Linked DNA regions of Homo sapiens: region 2 is linked to region 1. Evidence: fine-mapped QTL for protein levels in blood plasma. Region 1 holds a variant in brackets. A gene starts in the other region. All regions are shown on their reverse strands.

Region 1 (2,924 bases):
TGTGTAGATCAGGTTTTTTTCTCCAATAAATAATAATTTGACAATCCAATCCATTTCCATCTTAAGAAATTGTTTTCACTTAGGAAAATGTTTCTCAGTGGAGCTAGAGTGAATAATCTTTCTTCATACTGGAACTGAGTTAGAATGTCTTTGTATACAAATATAGCATATTTTGGCCAGCAATATAATTGCCTGTTAAAGAGTTTATTTGCCTTCACACGCAGGATTGCTACATACATTCACAGTTTTAATAGACTGTAATTAGCTATTCCAGTTGTGCTTTAAAATCCCGAATATTATTCTCATTAGTGAGTGCAAAGCAAATGTCCCATCTGACTACAATTGGTCCTAGAGTTATAAACTCCATAATGGTTTATTGTAAGTTTCCTCATTCTCCAGTTTCATCGTTTGCTTTTTCGGGTATGACTTCCAAGCTCCGGCGTGGCTTCTGGACATCAGCATTTTCGGTGCCTGGTTTATTCAGTCCACATGAAACAGCAGCAAAATGGATTTGTTTCAGGTTCTCCAATGTCTCATTCTTAGCATATTTCAAAAGATCTGCTTGTCCCTATAACAAAACATGCAATTAAACAGTATTAGATATGACATAACTTAGTGTTATACTTCAACAATATCTATCTTTCACTGAAATAGAAGTATTCTGATTCCACAAGAAGGCATAATTATTTCTTATTGGCACTGCATCTGAATAGGTCAATTTTAATAAAAAGTGAGTTTGTTTTCCCAGTTTCAACACCACACTCCAAGAGTATGCTGCCTTTCTGGCCCTTTCTATTTATAGATCTGCATGGGGTTCTGTGTGCATGAACTATTCCTGTCTATCCTGGTTAAAATTACATCTTTCATTAGTTGTTTGGCCAATCTTGTTTTTTCCCTTTTAAGGTTTGATTAAAAAAAAAACTTTTTATTTTGAAATAAGTATAAACTCACAGAAGGATACAAATATAGTACAGAGAGGTCTTGTATACCCTTTCCCAAATTTCCCCCAATGGTTATGTCTCACATAACTATAGCACAATATCAAAACCAAGACACTGATGGGGGTACAAAGTGTGCCTATGCTTCTGTGTGACTTCATCACATGTGTGGGTTCACGTAACCACCGTGGCAACCAAGGCACAGCACTGCACCAGCACCACCAGGAAGTCACACCCACCCCTCCTCTCCACCATCCCTAAACCCTGGCAACCACTAATCTGTTCTCCATCTCTGAAGCCCACACAGCCTTTGGTAAGTGCTGGCAGCCGTGGGCACGCAGCAGGTCCTCACTGAGCATTTGCTGAAAGAAAGAGTGAAGCAAAGGATTTTCTACTTTGGATATACTTTCTCAGCCAAATTTTAATTTCTTTTCTGAGGTCTGACCATCAACTTGATCTATATGCAGTATAACATGATATAGGTCAGAAAACAGTGGGCGAATTGAAGCACAGTCACTGGGAGTCTGGAATCGGTGCTGACAATGGGCCAATGAAGTTTGTCACCCTCTTTGCTCTTGACATTTTGGACCAGAGAATTCT[T/C]TGGAGGTGGGGAGCTGTCTTGTGTATTTTCAGATATTTAGCAGCACCCCTAGCATACCCTAATGTTTGCAGACATTGCTAACTGTCTCTTGAGTGGGAGGGTGAGCTACCCCCAGTTGAAAACCACTGGGCTAATGCATCAGCCAACAATTCCAAAATTATCGAGCAGAAGAGATGATGTGGTGCTCTATTGCTGTAAATTCCAACACTCCTACTTTGCTTTTTTGTTCTATTTTTCCTTCCAAATTTAACCTGCCTTCCACTAACAGTTTTTTCTACTTACACTATTACCTTTTCTTCTTTCTCACTCTCCTTGCTTGCTATTTTTTCCCATCCCCTTGGGTTCTCAATTTATTCTATTATTTTCTTTATGATTCCTCTGTAGTTTGACTTTTCTTTGTCCTACTTACACCTCCTCCGCCTTTCCCTCTTTCTGAACTGCCTCCCAGTGTGGGTCCCCTTTAAGGCATTCCTGTCCAGCAGGAGCTTGGGGCCAGCTGCAGAGAGCAATGGGTAGGGACTTACCTTGGCTGGCAAATGGACTATAGTCAAATGTCAGCCACTGGTGAGATCAAATTGCAAGGCAATTTTAAACCGTCATGAGGCCCAAATCCACAGAACAGTTTGCTGCCTACCACTTACCATGCATGGTTTTCCTGCTTTACAGAGTCCTTTAATTAGTAACTATAAATAGATGTTCCCTTGCGTAGATTAACTAAAGGAGCTTCATTTTTATTCATTCTTACTAGTCACTGAACTCACATGTTGAAAATTTACTAGTTATGAGGTCTTTGTATATATAGCATATTGTGTCAGGAGTATAATTTCATGTTAAATAGTGTATTTCCCTTCACAAGCAGAATTGCTACACACATTCACAGTTTTAATAGACTAACTAGTCTTTGTGTTTTAAAACTCCAAATATTATTTTTTAAAATTAATAAACTTTAATTTTTAGGACAGTTTTAGGTTCACAGCAAAACAGAGCAGAAACCACAGAGAGTTCCCTTACGCTCCCTCCCTACGCAAACCTTCTCTAGTAGCCACATCCCGCACCACAGTGGTATACTTGTTACAATCAATGAACCTATGTTGCCACATCCCCTCAAGTCTATTGCCTAAATTAGGGCTCACCCTTGGTTTTGTGTATTCCATGGGTTTTGAAAAATGTATAACAACATCTATCTACCCTTACACGATCATGCAGAATAGTTCCACCACCCTAAAATTCCTCTGTGCTTTGCTAGTCATCCTTCCCCACTCCCAACCCCTGGCAACCATTGATCTTTTTATTGTCTCCACAGTTCTGCCTTTTCAACAATGTCGTCTAGTTGGAAACACAGTGTGTAGCCTTTTTGGATTGGCTTCTTTCGCTTAGTAATATGC
Region 2 (2,916 bases), not on the chromosome of region 1:
GTGAGCCACCGCACCTGGCCTGATAAATACTTCTTAAATCTCTGTCTCCAGCCCTGACCAGTAACTAATCAGACACACCCACCTGGACACTCCTCCTTCCGGCCCATCTTTCTGTGGCACCCCTCAGCTCTCTCTGCCTTGCAGCCTGGCCAGCTCTGTGCAGTTCTGTCCCCCACACTAACCTGTGAGCTGCTGGGAAGCAGAAGTCTGTCCTGCTATGGTTCACTCAGCCCCAGGTACCAGAAGGGCAAAACCGAGTTCCCTCTCACACCAGCCTCCTTTTTTTCTGTTCAAGCCAGCATTGTTTCCCATCTCCCCATCTGCCCCCAAGTCTGAAACTTTGCCCTTGACTCATTCCTCGCCTCCATCCCCCACATTACATCAGGCAGAGACTCTGCCCAGCGCTGTCTTCAGTGGGAGCTTGGCTTCCTTGCTTCCTTCTCATCTCCACTGGCTCAGCCCTCATCCTTCACACCCAGAGAGTCTCAAAAACTTCTGGGCCTATTTCTTCCTCTCTGGTCTCTCCTGACACCTCCCTCATCAGCTGCATGCCCACATGTGGTGGATCTTTCACAAGGGCTGCCCTGACCATGTAATGCCCCCTTCCTCCAAAACCGTCAATGGCTCCCTGCTTCCTTCCCCATCCAGTCAAAACTTTTCAGGCCAATCTTGAAGCTGTACCTTCCATCTAGCCCCTCCTTCCTATTCAGTCTCATCTCCCTGCTCCCCAACATTGAGCTTTCTTGAGGGCCAGTGCGTCCCCTCACTTTGTGACTTGGTTTGCTGCTTCCAAACTCCTGTCCCCTTCTTGTATGGATTATCTTCCCTTGATCCAAAGTCCATCCACCGCTCATCTAACACATGCCCTGAAAGATCCAGCGAGGGGGTCACCTCACAGTGGAGGGGTTAGGAGCAAAGACTCTAGGTCAGGTCACCTGGTTTTGAATTCAGCTCTCCCATCAGCAGGCGGTGACACTGTGAGCTCAAAGTCACTTCTCTCTGAGCCTCAGTTTCTACAGCTGCAAAATGAAAATAATAACAATAATTACATTAGAAGGCTTTGGTTTGCATCAACTGCCTTACTGCTTATATCTGGCAAATAGTACACGTTTCTGACTTTAAATATCATCTATATGCCAACCACTCCCAAGTTTCTCTCGCAAACTCCAGCCTCCTTCTACGTCCAGCTGCCTACTCGCCATACCAAATAGGCAGCTCCAACCCCCCAAGTCTGAAGCTGAATTTCTGATTCCCACCCACCCCTACACCTGCTCTCTCCTCCTTCTCTGCCAGCCCCTTCCTTCCGGTTACTAGGGCCAGAAACCTGGGCGCTATCCCTGACGCCTCTTCCTCTCGCCCCCAACTTCCCATCTGTTGGGTGAGCTCATGTCTCTGCTTTCCAAATACACCCAGAAACCAGCATCAATCCCTGGCTTCCTACAACTGCCTTCTGGGTGCTCTCCCTGTCTCCATCCTTGCCCCCTACAGTGTATTCTCAGCACAGCAGCAGAGGGACCATGAATCTCCCGTGTTCAGAACGTCCCCGTGGCTCTCCACCTCACGCAGAGGACAAGTCCAAGACCCTCCAGCAGCCACGAGGCCCCGCGAGTTCTGTGCCCTGCTCTCTGCCCACCTGTATCTCCTGGTTCCCTGGTTCACTCTGCCCCAGCCACCCTGGCCTCCTCCCTATGCCTCAAACCAACCAGACAGACATGCTCCTTCCTGAGGAGGTTTGCACGGACTGTTCTTTCAGCCTGGAATGTTGTCCCCAGATACCTGCAGGACTCACTCCTTCACCTTTTTCAAACTTTTTTAGGCCGGGCGTGGTGGCTCACGCCTGTAATCCCAGCACTTTGGGAGGCCGAGGCAGGTGGATCACTTGAAGTCAGGGGTTCGAGACCAGCCTGGCCAACATGGTGAAATCCCATCTCTACTAAAAATACAAAAATCAGCTGAGCGTGGTGGCAGGTGCCTGTAGTCCCAGGTACTTGGGAGGCTGAGGCAGGAGAATCACTTGAACCCAGGAGGCAGAGGTTGCAGTGAGCCAAGATCACACCACTACACTCCAGCCTGGGCAACAGAGCAAGACTCTATCTCAAAAAATATATATATATATATATTATATATATTTATAATATATATAATATATATTATAAATATATATTATATATATTATAAATATATATTATATATATTATAAATATATATTATATATATATAAAATATATATTTATAATATATATAACATATATATAATATAATATATATATTATAATATATATATTATTATATAATATATATAATATAATATATATTATAATATAATATATATATTATAATATATATTATAATATAATATATATATTATAATATATATATTATATATAATATATGTTATATATATTATAATATATATATTATATATATTATAGATAATAATATATATTATATATATTATAGATAATAATATATATTATATATATTATAGATAATAATATATATTATATATATTATAGATAATAATATATATTATATATATTATAGATAATAATATATATTATATATATTATAGATAATAATATATATTATATATATTATAGATAATAATATATATTATATATATTATAGATAATAATATATATTATATATATTATAAATATATATATGTATTTGTTTAGATTACATCTTTCAGTGAAGTCAAATTGCATGCCATCCCCATCTCTTCCTCTGCTCTTTTTTTTTTTTTTTTTTGCTGAAATGCTTATATCCTCTGACATGCTAGGCCATTCGCTTACTTATGTCTGCTGTTTACTATCTGTCTCCCACCTGTACCCCCACCCCCATCCTACTGGGATGTAAGTTGCATGGGACAGAGGTTTCTGTTTCTTTTCTTTAATGGAATATATCTCGGCACAT

Direction of the effects. Positions count from the first base shown, and alleles are read on the strand shown. Strength reflects both the effect of a copy and how common the allele is.
With allele T in place of C in region 1, the plasma level of the protein whose gene starts at base 1,005 in region 2 is higher (moderate association).

The links. PIP is the chance, under the fine-mapping model, that this variant and not a neighbour inherited with it causes the effect. Protein levels are from antibody-based Olink assays in UK Biobank. Linkage for the fine-mapping came from a reference panel and not from the study's own genotypes, which makes the PIPs less certain.
Region 2: it holds the start of CCL17, and the variant in region 1 is fine-mapped to the plasma level of the CCL17 protein (UK Biobank, PIP above 0.99).

The regions. Positions count from the first base shown.
Region 1 is chr3:17,087,377-17,090,300 of GRCh38, reverse strand. It overlaps PLCL2 (phospholipase C like 2), which reads right to left. Exons shown (of 6, transcript NM_001144382.2): 6 at 1-568. The coding sequence ends at 389. Among named protein-coding and RNA genes, the nearest start is that of PLCL2-AS1, 34 kb to the right of the region's middle. The variant T/C (reference allele first, on the strand shown) is at 1,539.
Region 2 is chr16:57,402,856-57,405,771 of GRCh38, reverse strand. CCL17 (C-C motif chemokine ligand 17) reads right to left here and starts at 1,005. Exons shown (of 4, transcript NM_002987.3): 1 at 936-1,005.